Regions from separate parts of the Homo sapiens genome. Here all the other regions are linked to region 1. The links come from fine-mapping of genetic effects on gene expression. A gene starts in region 1. Each other region holds a variant in brackets. All regions are shown on one strand. Distances are between the middles of the regions. Region 1 holds the start of TRNT1 (tRNA nucleotidyl transferase 1). Region 2 holds the start of CRBN (cereblon). Region 3 overlaps CNTN4 (contactin 4). Region 4 overlaps TRNT1 (tRNA nucleotidyl transferase 1). Region 5 overlaps CRBN (cereblon). Region 6 overlaps CRBN (cereblon).

Evidence for each region. PIP is the estimated chance that this variant, and not a neighbour inherited with it, causes the effect. A credible set is the group of variants that fine-mapping cannot tell apart.
Region 2: its variant is the best candidate, but not a certain one, in a credible set for the expression of TRNT1 in whole blood (TOPMed, PIP 0.52).
Region 3: its variant is the best candidate, but not a certain one, in a credible set for the expression of TRNT1 in monocytes (TOPMed, PIP 0.71).
Region 4: its variant is the best candidate, but not a certain one, in a credible set for the expression of TRNT1 in blood mononuclear cells (TOPMed, PIP 0.71).
Region 5: its variant is the best candidate, but not a certain one, in a credible set for the expression of TRNT1 in testis (GTEx, PIP 0.72).
Region 6: its variant is the best candidate, but not a certain one, in a credible set for the expression of TRNT1 in activated CD8 T cells (Schmiedel 2018, PIP 0.51).

The regions. Positions count from the first base shown.
Region 1 is chr3:3,123,840-3,128,643 of GRCh38, forward strand. TRNT1 (tRNA nucleotidyl transferase 1) reads left to right here and starts at 3,101. Exons shown (of 8, transcript NM_182916.3): 1 at 3,101-3,151. It overlaps LOC124909339 (a long non-coding RNA gene), which reads right to left and starts at 2,992. Exons shown (of 2, transcript XR_007095786.1): 1 at 2,721-2,992. RefSeq lists a silencer at 2,805-3,224 and enhancers at 3,432-4,162, 3,585-3,664.
Region 2 is chr3:3,176,851-3,180,850 of GRCh38, forward strand. CRBN (cereblon) reads right to left here and starts at 2,841. Exons shown (of 11, transcript NM_016302.4): 1 at 2,771-2,841. The coding sequence starts at 2,837. RefSeq lists a silencer at 2,905-3,074. The variant T/C (reference allele first, on the strand shown) is at 1,690.
Region 3 is chr3:2,506,076-2,511,683 of GRCh38, forward strand. All of the region lies in intron 3 of CNTN4 (contactin 4), which reads left to right. Among named protein-coding and RNA genes, the nearest start is that of CNTN4-AS2, 360 kb to the left of the region's middle. The variant G/A (reference allele first, on the strand shown) is at 2,456.
Region 4 is chr3:3,146,625-3,150,696 of GRCh38, forward strand. It overlaps TRNT1 (tRNA nucleotidyl transferase 1), which reads left to right. Exons shown (of 8, transcript NM_182916.3): 7 at 826-1,079; 8 at 1,282-2,399. The coding sequence ends at 1,530. It overlaps CRBN (cereblon), which reads right to left. Exons shown (of 11, transcript NM_016302.4): 11 at 3,387-4,072. Among named protein-coding and RNA genes, the nearest start is that of TRNT1, 22 kb to the left of the region's middle. The variant T/C (reference allele first, on the strand shown) is at 1,932.
Region 5 is chr3:3,157,753-3,161,752 of GRCh38, forward strand. The region is part of intron 5 of CRBN (cereblon); the gene reads right to left. Among named protein-coding and RNA genes, the nearest start is that of CRBN, 20 kb to the right of the region's middle. The variant T/C (reference allele first, on the strand shown) is at 1,996.
Region 6 is chr3:3,171,453-3,175,452 of GRCh38, forward strand. It overlaps CRBN (cereblon), which reads right to left. Exons shown (of 11, transcript NM_016302.4): 2 at 3,711-3,817; 3 at 2,607-2,809; 4 at 1,324-1,473. Among named protein-coding and RNA genes, the nearest start is that of CRBN, 6.2 kb to the right of the region's middle. The variant T/C (reference allele first, on the strand shown) is at 2,391.

The sequences.
Region 1 (4,804 bases):
TCATCTGAAAATAGGGACAATTTTACTTCCTTTTGAATTGTTACACTTTCCATATCTTTTTCTTGCTTTGTTAATGGTTATAAACTACAGACAAATGTTAAGAAGTGGTAAGATGAGGCATCCTTGCCTTCTTCCTGATATAAGGGGGAGAGTGTTCAATATATTACCACTAAGTCTGATATTGGCTATGGATTTTTCATGAATGACCTTTACTATATTGAGGAAGTCCCTTCTAATTTTTTTGGCAGTTTTTATGAGTAGGGATTGAATTTTAAGTGGTCTTTCTGCATCTATTGTGATGACAACAGTTTTTCTTTTTCAGTTAATATGGTGAATTACGTTGATTGGTTTTAGATCATTAAATACAACTTGCATTCCTTGCACTGGGGACAAACCCAAATTGATCATGATGTATTATCTTTCTATATACTGTTGGATTCAATTTCCTAACATTTTATTAAAGTTGTTTTTGTTTCTATGGTCATGTGGTATATTAAGCTGTATATTAATTTTTTTGTAGTGTTGATTTTATGTTATGCGGGTTATGCTGGCCTCAAAATGAGAGGAAAACTGTTTCCTCCTCTATTTTCTAAACAAACTTTGCACAAGACTGGAGTTCTTCCTTCCTTATGCGTTTGATAAATTTGACCACTGAAACCATCTGGGCCTGGAATTATCTTTGTGAGAAGTCTGTTGAACAACAATTCAATTTCTTTAAAAATGAAAAGCTATTCAGATTTTTAAATTCTACCCTATTTCAGTTCTGATAAATTGTCTTTTTTATAGAATTGGTGCGTTGCATCTACATTGTCAAATTAATTGGCATAAAATTGTTTATAATACCTCCTCATATATATCTACATGATCTGTAGTAATACCCCTATTTTTGTTTTATTGTCTTGGCCAGTACAGGAGGAATTCTCTTACTCTCTCTCTTTCTCCTCTCTCTCTCTCTCTCTCTCTCTCCAGTTGACCTTCCATGGCCATGGGTTCTCCATCAGTGGATTCAACCAGCCACAGGTCAAAATATTAAATAAGGCTGGGGCACCATGGCGCACGTCTGTAATCCCAGCACTTCGGGAGGCCTAGGTGGGTGGGTCACCTGAGGTCAGCAGTTCAAGACCAGCCTGGCCAACATGGTGAAACCCCGTCTCTACTAAAAATACAAAAATTAGCCGGGCGTGGAGGCGGGTGCCTGTAATCCCAGCTACTTGGGAGGATGAGGCAGGAGAATCGCTTGAACCTGGAAAGCAGAGGTTGCAGTGAGCTGAGATCGTGCCACTGCACTCCAGCCTGGGCGCCAGAGTGAAACTCCATCTCAAAAAAAAAAAAAAAAATTAAATAGCAATTAAAAAACACAAAGAAGCGATATAGCATAACAACTGTTTACACAGCATTTATATCAGGTATTATAAGTAATCTAGAAATGATTTGTACTACAGAATGTGTATAGTCTATATGTAAATATTATGCCATTTTATGTAAAGAACTTGAACACTGGCTGGGGTGATGTTCTGGAACCAATACCCCATGGATACGGAAGGACAACTGTATATACACCTGCATATATAAACTATATATTTACAAGGCCAGAAATTGTTGAGGGTGCCCAGCACAGTAACTGGCACGAAGTAAGTCATCATAATAGTTGTATTAGCGTTGCCTTCATAGGTGGTGATTTGGAGAATCTATTCTAGGTGGGTACAGCAATGGAGGCTTTGGTCCAGTTTGTCTAGGGTCATGGTGGTGAGAAATAGCAGACAAGCCTGAAAGGATGATTTGGGGCTTTCCTTGCCCCAAAGAGAGAGAGAGACAGAAAATCCTTGCACCGGATGATATCAATGCTGTGCCTCTGAATGTCCATTTGGAAAGCCAGTCCTGTGCTTCCAAAAACAGGATATTCAACACCTTGAAGAGGTGTGGTAATTGCACATCTTACTTTTTACGTTTTAGGAAGTCTACAGAGAGTGGGGCTGAAAAGTTTGGGAAGAACAGGTAGGCATGTGGGGAGGGCAAAAGAACAGAAATAACATGCACAAGCATTTTTCTAGGAAAATTTTAGGGAAAGCTAAGTGATGTAAAGTTACACTTAAAAGACTACACATTTTCGGCCGGGCGCAGTGGCCGAATCCCGGCAAAAGTAATCCCGGCACTTTTGGGGGCCGAGGCCTGGGGAACACGAGGTCAGGAGTTCGAGACCAGTTGGCCAACACGGCAAAACCCCGTCTCTACTAAAAATTAGCCGGGCGTGGTGGCAGACACCTGTAATCCCAGCTACTCGGGAGGCCGAGGCAGGAGCATCGCTTGAAACCGGAAGGCGGAGGTTGCAGCGAGCCCAGATCGCGCCACCGCACTCCAGCCTGGGCGACAAGAGCGAAACTCCGTCTCAAAAACAAAACAAAACAAAAACTACACATTTTCGCACTTTAAGGGCTCAACGGCTGTATTCCCACTCCTTTGCCACTCTCTTTGCTCTTTTCCGCTCTAGAAAGAATTAATGAACTGGATCAAATCTAAGTTCTCCACGTTACAGATGGGAAGCCTCCGGGCCAAGGAGGCCAATGGTTACACAAACCAGGTAAGAAAATAAAATATGCCCAGTAAGTTCATAGGACCGGCGGGCTTAGATTTCGAATGCGCGTGACTCTGTCAACTGTGGACTTAACCCTATGCAGAGATTAGAGGAGAGAATAGTCAAACACGGATAAGTTAACATTTACCGAACAGTCCGTCCTACCCTGGGGTAGGTTTTATTAACAGTCTCGTTTTGCAAAGGAAGACAGCTGCCAGTTGTCTCAGATCGCACGGGCATGCCGCGCAGATGGGCTTCTGAGCAGCTCAGGGCCAGCCAGAGGTCTGGCGAGAAGGGCGTAATTAAACGAACCCGCGCCGGTTTCCTCAGGGCCCCCCGGGGCTCCGCTTCGCCCCAGCGGGCCTCGGCGGGGCTGGGAAACCGGCTGAGGTTCGCCTCACGGTGGGGAGGAGCGACGGGAGGCGGAAGCCCTTCGGTCCGGGCCCCGCCCCCGCACTCGCCCTCGCCCCGCCGCGACTTCCCATTCGCCGCCAACCCATGTGCGTTGGTGACGTCACCGCGTTCACCAGCCCGGAAGTGCGCGTGGCGGCGGTGGCGGCTGCGGCAACAGCGGGGCCGGTAAGCGGGCGCGCGCCGCTCAGAGGGGCAGAGTTGGTGGCGTGAGTTGCTGCCCCTTCCTTCCTGCTGTGGGCCAGAGGCGCCACCGCGCCCGGTCCTCGAGGAAGACGGGAGCGGGACGTGGCGAGAGGCCTCCTCAGCAGTGGGCAAAATAGCCCCGACGCGGAGGTCGTGTCCCCGCCACGTTTCCGGCGACCGCAGGCGCGGATTCCTTGGCTTCCCTCAGCACTTTCCCCTCCGCGCGGACGGCCCCGAGACGCTTTTTCACTGGGCCTTGTCGCCAGCACCCGGCGTGGGGGGTGAGACGCGCCTTTTCAGGGCTGGGGTTCCCCAGAGCGTTTTCCTAAGTCGAGGCGGAGGTGCGAGGAAACTGAGTGGGTCTTTCCGCCCCACGTGGCCTGCCGGGAAGCGCGGCTCCTCCACCCGCTTCCGTGGAATGGAATGGTTTTTCTCTGCAGGTTTACACCGGGGTCACTCGAGAGCTGCTGCGGCCTCCTTATGGGCAGGACCCCCGTATGGGGAGAACGAGGATGTGATATGTAGAAGGGAAGGCCGCGGTGTGCCAGAAATCAGAGGAGATTGCAAGATGGCAGGAAAAGAATCAGGAAAATGGGGGCAGCAAAACTAAATTCATGGGAAAATACAATGTCTAGGAGCTATCCCAGGGTCGTGAATCCTCGAGTGCAGGTGGGGAAGTAGGGTGATACCCACCTGTGACCATGACAAGTTTTGGAGACCAGAAACTCGGTTAGAGTTTCTAGAACCCCGCATCCCTCTCATACTGCCTGAAGCCCTGCTCTGGGGAGAGTGTCATCACAGTACCATGTGGCATGCGAGTGTCGTGGTAATGCTCCCCGACCAAACCACCAAACCGAGGGTTGGGCTGCTTATTCTCGCTGCCCAATAATGAGATGCAGATAAACTAGGAAAGAAAGGAGTTTATTTCTGTAACCAGGTACGGGGCGAAGGCGTGGAAAATATCCCAGACCGACTCAGAATTACAGAGCTTTCCAGAGCTTATATACCTTGTAAGTTGTATGTTTATGTGTAAGTGTGCATTGATCTAAAGATACAAGTGATTAACTTCTTACCCATAAGATCTGAGTCCTGAAGACCTTCCTCTGGAGCCTGAGTAAATTTACTTAATCTAAATGGGTCCAGGTGCTGGGGTGATTACCCTTATATTCTCTCCTGCTAAATCATGGAGGTTTGGGGAGTTCCCTCAGACCCCTAATAAACTTGTTCGTGGAGGCCTGGGGAGTTTCCTCAGATCCCCAGTAAAACTTGTTTAATTCTAAACGGGTCCTGTTAAGAATTCCTTTGTGGCCGGGCTCAGTGGCTCACGCCTGTAATCCCAGCACTTTGGGAGGCTGAGGCGGGCAGATCACTTGAGGTCAGGAGTTCGAGAGCAGTCTGGCCAACGTGGTAAAACCCCGTCTCTACCCAGAAGTATAAAAAATTAGCCGGATGTGGTGGTGTGCGCCTGTAATCCCTGCTACTTGGGATGCTGAGGCAGGAGAATCTCTTGAACCCAGGAGGCAGGGGTTGCAGTGAGCTGAGATCGCGCCACTGCACTCCCGCCTGAGCGACAGAGCGAGACTCCATCTCAAAAAAAAAAAAAAAAAAAAAAAGAATTCCTTTGTTATTTTATCA
Region 2 (4,000 bases), 53 kb after region 1:
ACCAGATGTTACCAATGACAGCAAAGAAAATTAGAAAACGCTACACAATACATATGCTATTGTACTAACTGTGAGTCTGTCCTTTTCATACAAACTATGAGTAAATTTCCTATCCTAGACCAGTGACTCTCAACCACAGGTGATTTTGCCCCTCAGGGGATATTGGTTGCAATAACTAAGGGAGTCCTACTGGCATCTAGTGGGTAGAGGCCAGGGATGCAGCTAAATATCCTACAATGCACGAGACAATCCCACCCAAAGAATTCTCCAGCCCAAAAGTCCAGTGCTGAGGTTGGGAGACCCTGGCCTAGACTAACAATAAAGAATTACTGAATCTCATTTCTCACCTCCCAGTTCATGTATTTTTAAATGCCCCAAATAAACTTCTAAATCGATAAAATGTCATTACGAAATAATCATTTGTTTTCCTTTGCATATCATTATTTAAGTCAAACCACCTCTAGCCAGGCCCCTGACAGAAAATAAAAATGATTTTCAATATGGTAACTGCCTTGGACTTTCTATTTATTATTACAACTTCCTAGATATAAAACTTTGTCAAAAACAGAATTACTTCAACTTATATGTAAATAGCCAATGGTCTAACACTTCATACAAATTTTCCTTGGAACATGTAAGTTTCACTGAGATAAAAAAAGAGCTATCTAAATGGATGACAAAAATATTCTGCATCAAATTGTTTGTATTTCCAACTCTGACAGTATGGCTATCACTTGGCATGCAGCACAACCCACTTTATTGCTCTACTACAGAAAGTTTAAAAGATAAACTATTAGCTCAAAGGCTGGAATTAATATTGTTAAAAATTTACATTTTAACTGTTCTGACTCCTAGTCTCTAAATAATTTCTTTAGTAACCTTTTTTTCATAAATATGGCTAAAAACCACTTTCCCCTACTCAGTTATGTTTATTAATGTTTCATTTGCCTAGGATAAACTCTTCACATCTCAAATATAAAGCTTTTTGTTGGAACTTAGAGGATTTACTCTTCAGAACAACTCGTACTACATGGAATTATGGAAAGCCCAGTGTTTCCCTACAAATAAAATTTACGTAATTTGGAGAGGCATTATTGCTATATCTACACCATCTCTGGGCCCTCTCCCGACGCTTTTCTGAAAAACAAAAAACAAAACAAAACAAACAAAAAAAAAACAAACAAAAAACCACGCTGACTGTTCAGAGCTATCAGTGAAGTCTGATGACTCATCTCATGCAGAGGCACGATGTGAATGTCGACAGAAGATCAGTATCCTCCCTCTTCTATTCACCATTCTCCCTGAAACACCGGATTTGGCACAGAGAGTAGGGCTAATGTCTCTGAAAAAATAGCTCAGCTTTCCATCAAAGGCTGGCACACTTACCCTTGTGTCAACTCAGCTAGAATGGCTTCGAGAACAACCAGTGACTATGGTTTATTTTTACAGAAAAGTTCTCTCCTATATGGTGGGCACGCACTCAGTCTCTTCCTCTTTTAATCCATGCTGCTACCAGTGGACAAATTAATCTTCCAAGCATAGATTTCTTTAGGCAATTACCTGAAACCTAAAACTGTTTCTTGGCAATCCACAGGAAAAACCCAAACCCACTGGCAAGAGATGCCAGTTTCCCAGCAACTTAGACCCAATATACCTCCTAGGCCTTATGTCCCACAACCATATCCTAAA[T/C]ATGTGCTTTTAGATGTCTCCTGATCTACCTGAAAGGCTTTTTCCCAAATCCTCTGACCCTTAAACAACCTCTGCCTCTGAAGAGCCACAACAGCATTCATTTATCTGGCCCTAAATCAACCGCCTCTGCAGTTGATTTACGTTTAGTTATATTCTCAGCAGCCCCGCCTAGACAGTAAACCTCAATTATCAGATTGTGTATTACCTCTCGTTTCATCTCCACAACACCTAACATACTTGTCATATAACGAAGGGACTCAAGTAATACTTTCAAGTTTGGATGATACACCTTTTGGAAAGCATCTCTTGAAAGGCATTCCATGAAAAGTTTATGCAATATTCCATGCATTTTTTTTTTTGTTCAGTATTTCAACACAAGGCCAAAGTCTAAACATTTCACACAACATACAGGAAAAAGAAAAACTAAGTATCTCTGATTAAGCATAATCGTACATGCCTGAGAAAGACCGATAGTAAGAAAAACAAAACAGAGAAGTGGTTTAGAGATATAATGACAGACACACCCGGGTTGGAATCCTGACTCTGCTGTGTGACCTTGGGCAAGTCATTGAACTAATCTGCAAATCCAATACTCGCTTATCAAATCGGAAACTGAAAACTGATGTGGGAAGGATTAAAAGGCGACATGCATGCAAAGCGTTAACTGCACGGCTCGTAACATGGTAAGTGCTTAGTACATGTTAGCTGTCACTCTTATTAAAAGGAAGGAGACCAGCAAAAGTAACCGCTGTGAATCTGACCCGGTCCTCTAGTTTCAGAGCATTTCCTAGGAGCTAAACTCAGAACACAAGGAGGATGGAGAGGATGGGTTTCCTGTTCTTAATAGCAAATGCTCCCCCCGACACCCTGGCTCACGGCTCGGGGCAACAGAGCAGCGAAGAAAGCGCCGCGACTCCATCGCTGGCCGAGGGCCGACGTGAAGCAGCTTTCCGGTGCGGCCCTGCTGGGCTGGCTCGCCAGGCTTGGCGCCCCCACGCCCGCCTCCCAGGCCCAGCTGCACCGCTAGCGGCTCCGAGCCTCGCCCCACTCCCGACTACAGGGAACTACTCCGGGCGGTTACCAGGCAGGAGCGGCAGGTGGTTGCCCATGTTGTGCGCAGCGTCCTGCTGATCTCCTTCGCCGGCCATGTCTGTTTACCCGCAAAGGAGGCTGGGACAGGGCGGTGCCGAAGACTCCGAGGGAGGGCCCGTGTCGCGCGGCTGCCGCGCACCGGGGCCACAGCGCCCCCTGGCGGCCCCAGGGGAGCAGACGGCGGCGCGTACCCAAGCCTGAAAGTGATGGCCTAGGCGGGAGGGACAATTACAGGCCTGCGCTCCGTCCCGGGGACAGAACGCCGTCCCCTGCCATCCACGGCTGAGTGCCCGGCGTACACGCTGCAGAGCCCTCACTTTGTTCCAGCCCTTAGCATGACTTATTTAATCCTGATATTTTGCATATGGAGAAACTGAGGCTGAGAGCCTTTAGTCTCCACCTTGTTTTTAAACGAAGGGGGCAGGGAGCAAATAGAAACCTGTTCATGCAGCATTAGTTTCAATTCTTAAAATAAGAAGCATATATGTGAAGGCTGGGGAAATCCATCAGTTATTCCGAGGGTGGTTGAATTATTGCTGATTTTCTTCAGTAGTTTCAATGTATGTACATACAACTTCAATAACTTCAGTAGTTTCCATATATGTACATTACATTCCAAAATTAACAAGTATTAATCAGAAACATACTTGAAATGATGATTGCACAGAATGGAAAACGCCTTATAATTGGTAAATAAAATTGTCTGAATATAAACTAGCCTACTCATTATGACTTCAGCTATGTAAAAACAAGTCACTGTGGCAAAAAAGAAAGACTATGTAAAAAATGAAGATAATTCTGTTATAATGGTGGAGTTGTGACTGGTAAGATATTTGTTTTGGAGGGAGGACAAAAGTTTTCGTAGTGTATTTCAGTATCACTTTTTCAGCGAGGAAGGAAAACTGAAAAATCCTTAAATGAAATACAACATCTAAACATGGTAGTGGTGGTGGTGGGCGGAGGCTGAGAGGAAGCAGCAGCATTGCTCAACAGAAAAGTCATGGATCTGAGATTTGAAAAAATGATTTCAGAAAATTTGCCTCCCTGATAAGTTACAAGCAGAAAACTCCCTTGTGACAGAGGCTTGTGAATCATTCCTGTGTCATTTTGCCTCCTGTCTCCGAATCAGTCTGTGGTCTTCGTCAAATCACTTATGGCTGCGGGCCTCAATTCGCCCATTTGCAAAATAAGAACGAACCAAATAGTGTCGCCTATTTGT
Region 3 (5,608 bases), 620 kb before region 1:
GCTTTGTTTCTGCCGGTTTTCCTCATGTGGACGCCTTCCTTCTCATTTTGTTCCATCTGCACCGGATCTAAGGAGAGACACTTTCCCTTTAAGAAACAAAGGTTAGCTGTGACTCCTGTCATGTAAAAGCCTAAAGAAGGCTTTTCATAGTTGATGGAAGTGATGCCAAAGAATAAAATGAAAAGCCTCTGCTATCTACCTAGCGCCTACACGCCCTGGAGCCGACAAAAGAGCTCAGTACCAGAGCCGAAGAGTCCGTGGAGCACCACGTTAGTGAAAAAGCCGATTATAAATAATAATGACCTTAGTGGATGCTGAGAACTGCACTAAAGTTTTTCTGAGCCAGACAGAATGATGTAGGGGATACCATATAAATGCATAGAAGTCTATAAGGGAAGAAGATGCTGAGAGATTCAATTTCTTCCTCCAATAATTTAAATTGATGGTGAGTTAGTAGGTGCTCAATAAATATTTGTTGAATGAGTAAACAAAAGCAGTCTAACAACGGATTTCCTAATGAAAGTTCATGAATTGAAGCATGTTTGCATTGCATCCCAACTCTGTATTAAAACTGTATCTATTTCAGGAGTAAGATCAGAATCCTGATAGAGGAACATGCAAAATGTTGCCCATCTATTTAGGGACAATCATAGAGATAGAAAGAAAAAAGATATTTGGAAGTACATGGAGCTCACTTTGCCTATGAGTTGTGTGCATTTCGAGGTGGGAGACGGGAGAGGGAGTGCAAGAGAGGCTGGAATGAGATTTTTTTTTGTAGTGATACTTGGTTTTCTGAGGCATAATCTAGTGAGGAGAGAGGGCCTTGACGTTTTTATTTAGCGATCATGCCTCCAGTCATGTGTTCTGAGGCTCATGTTCGGTTTTGCATTGATAGACTTGGAATTATAGGACATTCTTGGCTTTTGAACTAGCTCATTGTGCTGAATGTGGTAATTTTTGTGAAAGCATACTGAAACGTCTAAAATAACTTCCAAGGCAAAACAGTTTAGTACAGCTACTGCAGCTATATGTAGAGCACCAACATTTATACTTAGTCGGGTTTTAATCTCAGCACTCAGTTCTTCGGTATTCCAACTATAAGAACCCCATCATGCTTCCCTTGGGCCAGGGTATCTTAAACATATTGAGGTTAACATATTGAGCCAGATAATTCGTTGCTGTGGGGGGCTGTCCTGTGCTTGGTAGGATGATAACAGCCAGTAGCACCCCTACCCCAAGTGGTAACAACCAAAAATCAGGGTTTTTTTTAAACTGTCTTTGTTGGAAGGAAAATCAGAATCTTCTGAGGAAAAGGATTTTTGTTCTCTTCTTGGATGTTAAGAAAATTGGCTTGTGTTGGCTGGGTGCGGTGGCTCATGACTGTAATCCCAGCACTCTGGTAGGCCCGATCACTCTGGGAGGTGATCTTGTGGGCAGATCACAAGATCAGGAGTTCAAGACCAACCTGGCCAACATAGTGAAACCCCGTCTCTACTAAAAATACAAAAAATTAGCCAGGCATAGTGGCAGGCGCCTGTAATCCCAGCTACTCGGGAGGCTGAGGCAGGAGAATCACTTGAACCCAGGAGGCGGAGGTTGCAGTGAGCCGAGATTGCACCACTGCACTCCAGTCTGGGCCACAGTGAGAGACTTTGTCTCAAAAAAAAAAAAAAAAGAAAGAAAGAAAAAAGAAAATTGGCTTTTTTTTTTTAGCCATTAAAATAAGGATAAGTCAGTTCTCCCCCAAAAATTAAATGAGAAGTAACACTCATAAAACAATTTGTTCTCTCTCTCTTTTCTTCTCCCTCTCCACACACACACCCCCTCAAATTTTTTGCTAATAGTGACTACAAATTTCTGAGCAGTTAGTGGTAGATGAATATCAAGGCATATTGCACCCTTTTATCTAGCTCATAGGTCAATTTGATGTCACATTGACATAATTATTTAAATGGGCTATTTTCTCCACAGACTGTTTTAATTTCATGACCCTGGTCTCTGGGTCATTGTTATTAGAATCTGATTATCTCATGGAAAATTAATATGGCCACATATTTTCTTATGTGCGTCCATACTTTTGGCTTACTTCTTGAATATTTTATTACTGGCTCCATTGCTTTTGGTTGGAAAAGAAGGTTCAATCATTGCTGCATAGATTATCATTCCAGTAGGTGCCCTGGGCAGCAATTTCTGAACCATCCCTTTTGAAATTTTGTTCCCAGCTGGAGAAATGTCACAGTTGTCTCAGCTTTTGACTCTGACTTTTAGTGAGAGATGCAAGGAATAGGAAAACACTTTCAAGAAGAAGCAATGAGCAGTTGTATGCACATCTGGTGACTTATTGCTGAAGATTCTAAAGCATTTAAAAATATTGATTAAGCCTCAAACTGTTGGGAAATTGTTCCCATAACTTTCATTCTGCCCCTAGATTTGCTGAGGTTTTGAGCTGTATTTA[G/A]CTTGGTGAATCTTGTGTAATGGCCAGAAAGAGACCTCAGGAGCCCCATCCCCCAGGTTCTTATTAGCCTTGACAAGAGTGTTGTTAAAATTGCAGACTCTTCACAGTTCCAAAGAGATGCCGTTTCTTGCTGTTTCAATACCAAGTCTAAAACAATCTCTGTATACATTTTGGCTTCTAAAATATATTCTGAGGTAAAATAGCAGGTTCTACTGTCTTTGAGAAGACCATTTCTTTTGTTTGTGGTAACTAGTCATGTTGGTCTCTTTTTTCCTTCTCTTTGTTATATTTATTTGGACTTTAATGTTGGCTATGCCCTTTAATGAAAAAAAATCAGGCATTTCCCAGATTTAGATTTTTATTATAAACACTTCATATTTTAAGTGGTATATCTCTAGGGAGAAATGTATGAAGAATTGATGGAAGTTGGAAATTTTTTAGTTAGTAATTAACACCTACCATTAAAAACAAGTGCAAATCACATGATGGCAAAGTGAATCTATTACATATCATAATCAAAGATTAATCAAAGTAATTACCAGGCAAACAGGGATTGAATAGAACTTAAAACCAATTAAACTATTTCGGCTGTACCACTGAATAAACACTTTGGTATTTTAATTTCTCCTCTCTTCATTTGCTTCAGCAATATGTTTGCTAATATGACTGAGGTGCACAATTGCTATTTAATTAACCTATTTTTGTCAGAACCTCACACGAGCTGCGTGGAGTAGATCTGCTAAAGTCTCAATAATAATGAGCCTGATAAAAAATAACCAACATGAAATTCGTGCCAGTCATTTTACAAGTTATGCCAAATGTAATAATATCTGAAGAAAAAAAGAAACTGGTTACCTTACAGAAATTGGATTGAAAGTACTTAAAAAACATGTTGAACCAACACAAAATTACTCAAAAGTTTAGTAAAATTTCAAAAATGTATAATTGCCTTGTTTCTTTGTACCCCACTTTGCATATCATTACCATTAACTATTGGTAATAAATCTATTCGAGGGCATGGATCTGTTTTGGGGATACTTGAGTTGATAATGGGCACAGAAGGGTTTGGTAGTGGACATCTTTTACCCAATCATGTATCCTTTGGGAGAGAATACTTTTCTAGCTATTGAGTAAGGCATCACGAAAGTGTTGATCCATTTTGCTTTTATTCCCTAAGACAATCAAAACGCTAACACAGTTTGGGTGGTCTTGGCCTCAATGATACACATTTTTTCACAAAAGATAACATAACTAACCATGTGAAGAAAGCCTCACCTTTCTCTACCTTTGGATAGTAGGGATGAAAGAAAGTAAGATGGAGAAATCCACATTAAATATAAAGACTCTTTCCCCACAAAATCCCAGAGCTCTTCTGATTGGCACCATGAAGACAAAACATTCTGATTGGATTTTTGGTTCTTCACCCAGGTGTTTTACTATCAGGTAGACACAGTTTGTGTACAACTAAATAAGACCATTTCCTGCCCAAGCTGTCTTTTTTCCCCACACATTTAAAATTTACTCACACTTACTGAGCATGATGTTTCAAGTTTTCTGAAACAGCTGGTTAGTAGCCAGTTGATCACTGGCCCCTAAAGGTAACAAAGACCCTCCATCCCCAAATTTTTGCCAGTCAAAAAAGCATGACTTTATTTCACTCCCGTCACCCCAGTGCTATTACGAGGTGTAAGCACCTTTCTAGTGAAGGTCTATTTTCTAGATCTTAGGACAAGAATAGAATGTCACATTGTAAGCGTTCTCAGAGGTCTGCAGCAAAGCCCTTATTGTACAGAAAAGAAAACTAAGACTCACAAAGGTGTAGATCACCTGTTTGTTTGTTTGGGGTTTTTTTTTGTTGTTTATTTGTTTGTTTTTGCAGCAAGATGAGGATTAGAACTCAGATTTCTGACTCCCTCAATGTTCTCCCTTCTTTATCATACAGGCTCCTTAACTACTGGCTGCTTTGCGTGTGGTGGACTTTAAATGATCACACGGGTGCCTTAATCACAGCCTTTTTATGAGTGACACAGGCGCTGAGTCTCCCTTTTTCTAAAATGGAATGTTTTATATCCATAACCCAGACTTGCTTAACTAAGGTCAAATTTACATAAACAAATGTCTTCCGGGGCCAGCAGGTAGCATGTCTGGGCAAAAGCGTGTGTGGCAAGGTTTTGATAAAGCGCAGAACACATGTTCTGTTTAAAAATGTTCACATTCAGATTCTCAAATCTCTCTCTTGCCAGACCAAGCATGTCCACAGGCTACTGGTTTATAACCCCTGACTGCATCACGATGCAGACAGAGTAAGGAGGAGTGTTCTTACAGTTATGCAAATGGAATCCATATCACCAGTTCCTTTTAGAATACTAGATGTCCCAAGTGTGCCATGCCAAACCCTTTTGCTTTGAATGCCCTGGACTTCTAGTATTCAATGAAGAGGCACGACTTGGGGAACATGAAACACCCCCATAAACACCAGCTTTAGTTCAGCCAGTGTCCCCAAAGACTGACTCTGAAAAGAACATACACGTGTATGTCGCATAAAATCCGTAGAAGAGATGATGCTGCTACCCACAACCTTCTTGGGAGCTGCTGAGAATCCCTAACAGACAAACCGAATCATAGGGCAAACCCACCCTATGTACCAAACAACCAGTGTAATTATATTCTGTAGTTGAGGAATTACATAAATTGCCCATTGGGAAAGAAGCCTTAATCTCCATCCCTCCCCCGAAATCTATCAACAGCTGTGTGAGCCTCTGTGTATTTTTGAAAGGTTGAACACATTTGATCGGAGAACAAACTTGATTTCCTAATCAGGTTCGATGCGAGGAGAGCCAGTTAGAGATGTGTGTGATTCTCCCAGTGTGCGTCTTTGATTCGTGTGCTAATTATGTCGATCCTTTGGGGAACACAGCCAGGAAGCTGGGTCCTCCTTGATGAATGCTGGCGGAGAGCCATGCAGCGCGCAGCGGAGAGCAGTTCAGCATCTCTAGTCCCAGCTGAGAATATGGTCCCATTATCTCCCAGCTGCCTAAGCAATCCATAAGGGCCTGTTCTGCGTGGATGATCAGTGTAGTGGAAGCAGGGACTTGCTGAGAGCTGAAATCTCTGTTTGATTTGCTGTAACATGTAAAGCGAAACTGGGACATT
Region 4 (4,072 bases), 22 kb after region 1:
TGAGAGCAAGTTATAAAGTGTTTGAATTTTTGGCAGTGAAATATCTGGTTTCAAATTTCATAAGGAAAAAATGTTTGACTCATTTGGTTGAAGAATTCTTGGAGAAATGGAGTATTTTAAAATAAGACAAAGTTTGGGTTATGGGGTAAGTTTTGTCGTGAGTAGGGAAGAGCTCAAAGACAGCTTGTGGTGCTTGTAGAGTAGTCTCTAGTCAGACCTAGGTTTGAAGGAAGCTCAGCCCCTTATCTAGTCTTTGCAACTTGGGTTAGTTTCTAACCCAAAAAAGCGGTTTAAAAGTAATGTAGCCTCTATCTAATAGGAAAGCTAAAAGGATTCAGTGAGTTAATACATGTAAAGCTCTTTTAGAAGAGTGACTTGTACACAGAAATTGTTCAGTAAACGTTGTAATTCATTTTCACAGAGAATAGTGGGATTATATGGTTTATCACACTTCGGTAAGCTTGGGCATATTTCAAATTTCAGTAACATTACTGAATGGGGGGTGGATCTTGTATCAGTGTAAAGTCAGGAATTTGTGATTAGAAAGAGTATGCCTTGTGAGTCTGACACCACTGTCACCACTACCCCTGGAACTCTTGATGTAGCTTTAATGGAAACAAGAACATTTTAGAGGTTTTGAAGGTGACAGGGGAGAGAATAACAATATATTAGTGGTTCGCCTTTAAGTTGGAACATCAGACTGAACCTATATAATGTATCCTAGTGACAAAGCATTTCTGGATACTAAAATGGTGGCAAGGTTTAGGATATGAGTGGTTTTTTATCCCCACTAAAAACAGGTGAAAAATGCTTTTGTCCCTACAGGTTTACCTGCTAATGCAAGTTTAGAAGAATTTGACAAAGTCAGTAAAAATGTTGATGGTTTTTCACCAAAGCCAGTGACTCTTTTGGCCTCATTATTCAAAGTACAAGATGATGTCACAAAATTGGATTTGAGGTTGAAGATCGCAAAAGAGGAGAAAAACCTTGGCTTATTTATAGTTAAAAATAGGAAAGATTTAATTAAAGCAACAGATAGTTCAGACCCATTGAAACCCTATCAAGACTTCATTATAGATGTAAGTATATACTAGGCTTGGTCAGAAATATGAAGTATCGTCACGAATTTAGAATTAATTTATTAAAACTAAGATCTACAAATCTGTGAATTTTACTTATTTTAAATGAAAAAATTTATGTTGAGTATTTAAATTTTAGGATAAGATTGTAAGTGTATGTTTTCATGTGTGACGAAACTAAATGTTTGATTTTGACACGTAGTCTAGGGAACCTGATGCAACTACTCGTGTATGTGAACTACTGAAGTACCAAGGAGAGCACTGTCTCCTAAAGGAAATGCAGCAGTGGTCCATTCCTCCATTTCCTGTAAGTGGCCATGACATCAGAAAAGTGGGCATTTCTTCAGGAAAAGAAATTGGGGCTCTATTACAACAGTTGCGAGAACAGTGGAAAAAAAGTGGTTACCAAATGGAAAAAGATGAACTTCTGAGTTACATAAAGAAGACCTAAAACTGATGGCTACTAAAAAGCAGAGCATTTCTGGTAAGACTAAATTTTCTCCCCTCCCTCTTAATGAGGTTTTAGAGACTACACCAGAATAAAAGACAGTTTAGGGGACCTCTGTAGAACAACAAGGGTCTTATTTTGTGAATTATATATTTCAAGAACTAAACAGAGATCCACCTTTCTGGATCTGATTTATATCACTGAAATGTACAGTTCTTTTGGAATAGTTTCACCTGAGAAAACATAGTTGGCTATTATCTATCTTAACCTGTTCAGGCTTTTAAAAAAAACTGTTTTTGCATAGGGTAGTACTAAGATCTTAAAAAGTGGTAACTGTCTTGAAGAAAAAACGTTTATTGTTTGTTTGCAATTGAAATAACAGGGTTACCTTAACAATGACTGTC[T/C]ATGATGTGTCAGTTCTTATCTGAATTCCAAAATAAACCTGTGCTTAAAAAAGAAATAATTGACCAAGTAAGTTTGCATAAAATGTGAATACTAAATGTGTCCCCAGTTGCTGGCATTCATATGTACAGGATTTGTTCTAGCAAGCTATGCTTCAGTATGTGGTTGATATTTTTCTGTCACAATGATTTCTTTATGCATGCAGAGCCTGGGGAAGTCATGGGATTAACTTGAGGGTCACTATTGAGCCTATTAATTAATTATTGTTTTAATAAAACAAACATTGGTATTGGAAGATAAATATGTTTATGTGGTATCTGACAATGTGTATTAGGTGTCATATACAATGGTAATATGCCTGTCTTTAAAGTGTTATTTTATTAATTAAAAGGATATGGCTATTATTATATATTCTCTAAAGATTTGAGTCCTAAATGCTTTCATCAGGTAAATAAAATGTATAATACAAACTGTTTATTTCAGCTGCTATAATTTCAGCTGCTATACTGACATTTCATAATTTATTTCCTTTCTGTGTAGCCAGTCATAACATCTTTGTACTCTATGAGCAAATAGTAATTTTGGACCTTGATAAAACAATTTTGTAGAGTGTAATATTTCTAAGAGGAAATGTCACAGGGGCTATGATGCAAGAAAGCCTCAGAAATGACTGCATACAGGTCAGTAATTAGATGCATTATAAAATAATACTTTGAAATACTTACTTAAAATATTTAAGTACTGCCAAAATACAGATTTAGACCCAACGTCATATAATACATACTATTTCTGTATAGAAAGTATGCAGATTTAGCTATCAGGTCTGGTTTTGTCATGTGTAAAACCATTTTCAGTAGTAGTATAGTATATGTGTGTTTTTACAGATCAGAAAATTTTATTTGCTAGTAAACGGTATGGGACATACTGAAATTTTAACTTTTCAGAGGGACAAGGTAACTCATTGCAACTGGTTTAGAGTTCAGCCTACAGAGAGGTACTATGCTACTGACAGGAACTTCCTGGAGTAAGTAAGTTTTAGTGCAGTGTAAGAACTATAGGAACAAACCAGACCAGTGAAGTCACACAAACCCAAAATTATTAAAGTAGTAAAAGTAGACCTTAGAAAAAATAAGGCAGGGGCATATCCTGATTGGAAGTATTCTTGAATTTTCATTTACTCTATTTACATAAATATGCAGTGTGACACTCAACTGATTTCACTCCACCTTCAAGGCATGTATTTTGGCCTCATACTATTACTACATTTGAGTAAACATTTAACCTGATTAGTTTTAAAGTAGCAAAGGACTACCAATAAAACGAAAGTTATCATACAAATGTGGAAGGAAGGACCCACTAAACCCTTGAATATAAGCAAAGAGGTAGGTGGCAAAGCAGCCTTTTTAGAACTTTAAAATTATGAGTAGATATTTTACATTATTTGAACAAAGAACATGTTTAGTTTCACACTTAAGGTTTACTTACTTACAGATTTTCTTCAATTTACATTGAACAAAATAATACAGTATCAAGTTTAGTCTGGGTGAGGGGACATGTTTTGGCATCTTTTCCCTATAGTAGTAGTTTTGGTTCAAATTAATTTTTGAAAAATAGCTTTTGTATGGAACAGTATAAATGGGCTTATAGTTCAGATACTGAGCAAATACACAATACTACTTTTTACTAACAGGCACATAAAGGAAATGACAACTATTCGTGGGCTCAAAAAACTGCATATTTTAACTAATTTTCAAAATTTACAAATCAGTATCTCAGAGAAGTTAAAGAAAATGGAAAGGAACAAAGCCCTTTTAGAATAATTAATATACATTGCCTTGCTTCTTTCCAAAAGGAACATGTACTTGTCACCCTAGCTTTTGTTATTTAGAGCACTGGTACAGATACGCTGTCCCATACATCAGGATCAAATTATTAGTTTCAGTTTCACATTGTAGGAATTTAAGATTTTTTTTTTTTTTAACACAGGAAATAATCTCATCATTTCCAAAGATGTCTTCATGTCCCATCAATGACATGCTACCAGACATATCAGATTCCACAGGATAATGGCACCAAGCTACCCAAGTAGATGTTTCTGGTATTCTAGACTGCCGTTCATGCTTGTTTCCTAAAGTATACTTAA
Region 5 (4,000 bases), 34 kb after region 1:
TCTAGCTATGTTAGTTTGGTGCAAAAGTAACTGCGGTTTTAACAGAAGACTAGAATCTATGAGACAATGTTATTCTATTCCATGCTGTTCAAATATGGGAACTTTTATTATCAAAGGGAATGTCTTGTTACCAGAGATGTTCAGTTTAGAGCTGTCTCTCAAGTGGACACACTGGTTTTCAAATATTTTAGGAGTTGCAATATGGAAGAGGACAGACTTGTTCTAAAACACGACCTACAGCTCAAAACAAAGGATTCCTTAATGAGAAACATTTCTGGCTTAATATAATCCTTATATTTGAGACTATGCAAAGATCAGCCGTCCCCAACCTTTTCGACACCAGGGACCAGTCTCGTGGAAAACAGTTTTTCCAAAGATGGGGTGGAGGATGGTTTTGGAATGATTCAAGTGCATTACATTTATCATTAGATTCTCATAAGGAGCACGCAGTCTAGATCCCTCCCATGCGCAGTTCACAATAGGGTTTGCGCTCCTATAAGAATCTATGCTGCCACTGATCTGATAAGAGGTGGCGCTCAGCTTCACTTGCTCGTTCACCACTCACCACCGGCTGTGCGTCCCGGTTCCTAACAGGCCACAGACCAGTGCTGGTTCGTGGGCCAGGATTTGGGGACCCCTGCCAAAGGTGATCTGAGATGGCCTCCTACTGTGTGCTCTGGTAGTGGTTAAAGCCTGAGGAGTCAGACCATGAGACCCTTCAGGTACTCTCCAATAAGTTGTCCCTCACTTTTAAGACTAAATACCTAATGGTAAGATTATTGTCACAGTCCAGTTACAGAATTTAAGAAAATACTACCAAGAGCACATCAAGTAGCTCTGAATCTTCAGGAACAGCAATGGCAACCATTAGTATTGTGCCAAGAATTTCACATTTCTTGTAAGAATACTCTAAGGTTAGTAGTTTATTATCTCCATTCTAAAGTAAGGAAACAGAGGCACACAAGGATGGTATAACTTGCTCAAGGTCACAGAGTCAGTAAATAGGAAGGAGCTAGGATCTGTATACAGGGAGTCTGACTCTAACCATCATTCATTCAACAAATATTGTGAGTGCCTGATAGGGTTTGGCCGTGTCCCCACCCAAATCTCATCTTGAATTGTAGTTCCCATAATCCCCATGTGTCGTGGGAGGGATCTGGTGGGAGGTAACTGAATCATGGGGACAGTTACTGCCATGGTTTTCTCATGATAGTGAGTTCTCACGAGATCTGATGGTTTTATTAAGACGGTTTTGACCCTTTTGCTTGGCACTTCTTCCTGCCATCATGTGAAGAAGAACATGTTTGCTTCCCCTTCTGCCATGATGGTAAGTTTCCTAAGGCTTCCCTAGCCATGCTGAACTGTGAGTCAAATAAAACTCTTTTCTTTATAAATTACCCAGTCTTGGGTACGTCTTAGCAGCGTGAGACCAGACTAATACAGTGCCTAACATGTGTCAGGCTATTTTTATACATTTAGGCTATGCCAGTGAATGAAAGAAAAACCAACAAAATTCAATACCCTGTCGAGCTTATATTTTAGAGAGAAGAAGCTATATATTCTTAGAATTACAAAATGACAAAGACCCAACTGAAAGTTTTAGTTTCGCTGACACACTCCTCATTCAGTTATTAAAATATACTTCACATATCAGAATGGTCACTTTTGTAATACAAAAGAAATGTAAAAAAGTGTAGTACAAAAGTGTAATTTCATTTGGCACCCATGTCAAGAAAAAGAATCTGAAATAATATGTAAATTTCAAGTATAAAGAGAATAAAATGTGGCACACTAGCATATTAAGAGCAATGCACTGGATCAGGCATTCACTCTGCCACCATGCCCATGAGCAAGCTACAGTTTCAGGTAGCTTCTTTTCAGAGTCAGAAGACCTCTAAAATTCTTTATCTGGAGCATCCTGACAGATTCAAATATGCATAATACATCCTTAATATTTGTGATGTGTGTTAGTCAATTAGACACACTGAAGAGACA[T/C]ATACCAGAACAGATTAGCTAGCTAGCTTTTACAGAGCAACTGCCAAAGTTTAAGACATTTCAACATCCTCAAATTTAAGAGTCCCATTTAGCTTTCTGGCACAATAGGAAAGGCTCCTGTCTTATATCTGGGTAAAATGGATGATAAGTTCTAGCAATTTATAGGCATTCTTTAAATATATCAACACCATGATTGATGTCATAAAATGGTTATACCTCAAGAAAATTTTAATACTAGCCAAAAAGTTTAGGCACTTAAAAGTGACCAATGACGGATTCTCCAGCAGAGTAGTATTCACTCTGGGAACAGGATTTACTACTGAAAGCAGGCATAAAAGCCCTTAAAACGAATCTGTTACCTGGAGGTAATCTATCACAGTCCTCCATTCTTAAGCCTCATAACTATGGCTTCGGCTTTGCCTCCCAACAACGTAGAATGTTCAAAACATGTGAAACTCCATTTAAGTGAGTCTTTGAAGTGCAATGAAAATGGAAAGAGTAATGTGAAAAGCTAAACATAAATAGTAAATCACTACCACTGACTTCCTTTATATAGTGACTAAAAGTGGTCACTTATTGTGTTAAATCCTATTACAATCAGCAATGTAAATGACAGAAATAATTTATATAAATAATTAAAAAGTTACCAGTTTTTGTTTCCTTCTTTCATGAACCAAATTCCTACATGGTAATAAGAACTGGGATGGAATGATAAGCTCTTTCCTACTCCTGAGGCTTATACGCTAATGGCAGATACACAAGTGTACATACAAGATGTATGCCTGGGAAATGACCAGTCTTTCTGAGGAAGCACCTGACTATACATAGCCTAAGATTTCAAGACTTTTCTTCTTTATATAAAAATAGTCAATAAATGTTACTGTTCTTACGATTATTATCCTGGAACAAGGTGAAACAGATTCTCAAGTTCACAAGGAAATGTTAATCAATGGTAGTCACTGAAAAGCTTGACAAAAAAGCAGTGAGGGGCTTACCAGCCCTATTTTTATTTACACAAAGTATAAAGTGCCAACATTAACAACAATATGATGATGGCACACAAGCAGACCAAAAGAGAAGAAAAGTAAAATAAACATATGAATTTGGTCTGTGACAATGGTGGCATCTCAAATCAATGGGAGAAAATATGGACTATTCAAAAAGTGGTAGTAGGACAATAGGGAGCCATCTGGAAAAAAGTAAAGTGGAATTTATATCAGGATCAACTGCACAAGGATCAGAGCTTTCCACGGAAAAGTAATGAAACCACAGCAAGTATCCAAAGAAAACATGAGACATTCCTTTGCATGGGAACGTCATTTTTGGCTATGATTTAGAATACAGAAGCATTAAAAATTAAACTATGTAAGAACAACAACAAAAAAACAGTTCTGTTTGACACACCACACCAAAAACAAAAGACAAAAGACAAACTAGGAAAAATGTTTGGAACTCATTAATTACAGAGACTATAAAGCTTACAAGGAACTCCCAAGAAATCAACAAGCCGTAGAAAAATGGGCAAACACTTTACAGAAAGGAAACACAAACTGCTCTTACAACAAAATGCTTACCCTTGCTCTCAGAGAAATTCAAATTGAACCTTCAATGTAATATATTTCACTTATCAGATCAGCAAACATCAGGTTTGATACTACATTGCCTGTCAGGCCATGATGAAACAATAAAAATAAGTACAAACACCTTAAGTATTTTGAAAATAACTCGCCTCCCGGGTTCCAGTGATTCTCCTGCCTCAGCGTCCCAAGTAGCTGGGATTACAGGCACCCGCCACCATGCCCGGCTAATTTTTGTATATTTAGTAGAGACGGGGTTTCACCATTTTGGCCAGGCTGGTCTTGAACTCCTCACCTTGTGATCCACCCGCCTCAGCCTCCCAAAGTGCTGGGATTACAGGCGTGAGCCACTGTGCCTGGCCTCAAAATTATTTTTAAAACTGACAGAATTATAAATGCATTTACCCTGTGAGCCAATAACCTCACTC
Region 6 (4,000 bases), 47 kb after region 1:
AAACATAAATAAGTCTTGGTCATTGTTCTCAAGCAGCTTATCTATTGAGGGAGACGTACATAAAATCCTGTCAGGACAGTGCAATGTGGTAAGGCTATCAAAGTTTGCACAGTGAATGTTCTGGAAAAGTACCTGGGGAGAACTAAACACCCTAAGAGCTCTGGCAATCCCATCTCACATGCCTCTATGCTCTCTTTAGCTCCAAGGAGCTACCTGACATGTCAATATTTTCATAATTCAAAAATATATAGGAACGCCCACCATGTGAACAAAACAGACAAAACGTTCCTGCCCTCATGCTGCTCACATTGTTTTTTCAGTCTTAATCCCCCACCCCGCCCAAAAAAACCCCAAAATACTCAGAACTTGCATGTGTTCAGAAGATACCACCTGGGCAACACAGAGGTCTGATGAGATTTTCAACTGTGGGTATAAATTGGAAACCAATTCACTAGTACTTGTATTGCGTACCAGGACTGTGTATCTGTGAGACCTCACGGGTGATGCCACAGTTTAGAAGCACTCCGTTAAGAGGTAATATCCAGTGATCAAGGCAAATGCTTTGTTTCCTTTTTAAAAGAGGATAAAATAAACTGGACTTTTTTGTGTCTGTTTTAATGTGTATCCCTTGAATTTGTGCAAAACCCAGCCATGACAGCTTTGTCAAAATGAATTACTGCTGAAACAGTATACTCAGGGAATTTCTAAATGTCACAAGGCACATAGACTACAAGTATTTATTGATCATTTATTATGTAAATAGCATTTCTGGGTGATATAAAATTCACACTGGAGAGGGACACGAAATATAAATGGCTTTTATAGCTCAGCTGGAGCAGTAGGCAGATGTAACCAGTGTGGCTTTCAAACATCATAGCAATGCTACAAAAACCACAGCTGTCCTGGTGAGCACACGAACAGCTCACAAGCCTCTGGTCTCCCTATCCTCTTATGCTCCGAGAGGCCTTCAATCCTAAAGAAGCCAAATCCCAAACAACACTTCCCTTTGGATTTACATGATTGTTCTCAAACCTGGAGAGACATTAGAATCACCTGAAAATCATTTTTAAAAGATGCTGCAGCCTCATCACTCTCTGGAGATGGGAGATGAGGTTGGAACTCAAGCTTCTATAGTTTTAAAAGCTTCCCAGGTGATTCTGATGCATAGCAAGGTTGGAAACCACTGGGCTATACCTTAGAAGGGAAAGAGAACAACTAGTTAAAAGTTACAAAATATGAAGGCTCAGTAGAACAGAAAAAGTACAAGAAAACTATTTCATTAGGAAACATTCAAAGAGCATTAAGGTATATGTTATTTCTTACCCATCTGACTGTGTTCTTAGCTCAAGGACTTTGAACCTTTGTCTTCCAATTGCTTTCACTTTCACTATCTCAATTCCAAAATCCTGTTCTTCTCGATAGGCATATATCTCTGCTGTTGTTCCAAACTGTGCTTCCCTTTCCTGTACATTGCTTCCAAGAAAATTTTAAAAGGAAAGAATTTTGAACATTTGAGTTTTAAATATATGCAAAGTAGGCAAAGCAATAAATACAGGTAAACAATTTATAGAATCAACCCTTACTACAAAGCTAGGATAATTTTATTTATTTATTTATTTGTTTGAGATGGAGTCTCGCTGCGTTGCCCAGACTAGAGAGCAGTGGCATGAGCTCGGCTTGCTGCAGCCTCTGCCTCCCAGGTTCAAGTGATTCTCCTGCCCCAGCTGCCTGAGTAGCTGGGATTACAGGCACATACCACCACGCCTGGCTAATTTTTGTATTTTTAGTAGAGACGGGGTTTCACCATGTTGGTCAGGCTGGTCTCAAACTCCCGACCTCAGGTGATCCACCCGCCTCGGCCTCCCAAAGTGCTGGGAGTATAGGCGTGAGCTACCATGCCCGGCCAATTTTATTTATTTTTAAATCACATGGGGGATATACAAGAAGGACTCAGGAAGTACAATTAGAGAACTTTAGGAAAATAATAGATTTCTAGTCACTGAAAATAATTTAGAACTTACAGGGGTTTAAACTCATTTCCCAAACCAAACATTCTTTCACTCTGTCAAATGACTTATCATTTCTGCTGCTTACTGGCAGCACTGTACTGGGGTGGGAGCTTCCTGTATGTATTTCCTGCCTCTACCGCAGATTTCCTTTATTTGCCATGGGATACTTAAAATTCAGCTTCAATTTAAAGTGGTACAACCTATGAATTTTGAGAGAGAGGGAAAGAAAAGACCACTCTTTTGGAAAAGTAATCCTTTACGTTAAAATAAAAAAGCACTACTTCTCTATAATGAAGACAGTTATTGAAACTAAGATTCCAGAAATGTTTTTCATCAAATATAAATGATTAAAAATTTTTCAAATACCAGAAAGTTAAATTG[T/C]GTATGAAGGTGAAGAGCTGAGTTAGATGGTAATGAAATGAACAAAAATACTCCAACTTGCACTATCAAACTTCTACTTAACCAAATTCCTAACCTCACATTCTTACCCAACCTCTCCTGTACATGCGAAATAACAGCCTGCTTTGGCTTCAACACTGACCACTGCAATTACCCATGAGAGGGAATGTATTAAGCAAATGGACTCTAATATTTTACCTGTATGCAAGAACAGCAAAGGTTCTATCTTTCTGAATTAAATTCCGCACCATACTGACTTCTTGAGGGTGAAAAAGCTGAAGAGGTAATGTCTGTCCGGGAATCAGGATCATCATCACTTGTGGAAGAACTGGAATCACCTGACAGCTGTCGTCATCGTGCAAAGTCCTGCCATGAAATTCTTCCATATCAGCACCTAGGTACTATATAAAAACATATATAGGTATAGTGTCATGATCGATATGTAATAAAAATGTAAGCTCAACAGACTAAAGAGCAAATCACATTAAAAGAAATACAGGCCGGGCACAGTGGCTCACACCTGTAATTCCAGCACTTTGGGAGGCCGAGGTAGGCGGATCACCTGAGGTCAGGAGTTCAAGACCAACCTGGCCAACATGGTGGAACCCTGTTGCTACTAAAAATACAAAAATTAGCCAGGTGTGGTGGTGGACACCTGTAATCCCAGCTAATCGGGAGGCTGAGGCAGGGGAATCACTTGAACCTGGAAGGTGGAGGCTGCAGTGAGCTGAGATTGTGCCACTGCACTCACTCGAGCTTGGGCGACAGAGCAACACTCTGTCTCAAAAAAAAAGAAAAAAATACAAATGGGGTTACAAACACTTAATAAACGTGGTATATAAGCATCCCATGTTAAAATATAATTTTTAATCTAACTTTAACTCTTAGAAGAATTTCTAATCTTTTATGAATATATCACAAACACAGAAATTCAAGAATTTTTTTAGTACAAAGTATTATTTTTACCAAGAAATATCTCTATGCCCACATATCACAAACAGTAAGTATAAAATGTTAGTATGTTCAATAACACTCTAGTACCTAGAAGTACAGAGAAGTATTTAATAGCTCAATTACCAGAAAGAGTATAAAGAGCAACAATTCCTCAAACAATTCTACCACAACATAGTATTAAGCTTCTTAAAAATTACAGTTAAATGTTTATCTACTGGCAAATAGCCCATGTCCTCATCCACAATTTCTGATATCTAGTAATACAAATATCAGTCACTTGTTTTTATGAACTTTTATCTACATTTAAATGTATATCTATTATATTAGATCTGTCACTAAATTACATACTGTATGTGATGTCGGCAGACTGGTGTCAAAATTTATGATGTTTGGTTTTTTGGCTTCTTTACTATCCTGGTCTTCAACTTCCATTTCATCTTCTTCCTCACTCTCTGCTATAAAAGTAGAATATTGTAAGAAAAAAAAAAAGATGAATGAAAACCTTTCAAACATGTAATTCCTTCTTCAAAAGAGGGGTACTTCTAAAACCACATGCATTTGGTAAACTCTACAGCACCGTGAAGAGGGAGCCAGAGGACTGGGGTCCGTGCTGGGCTCTGTCAGTAGCTATTTTTTTT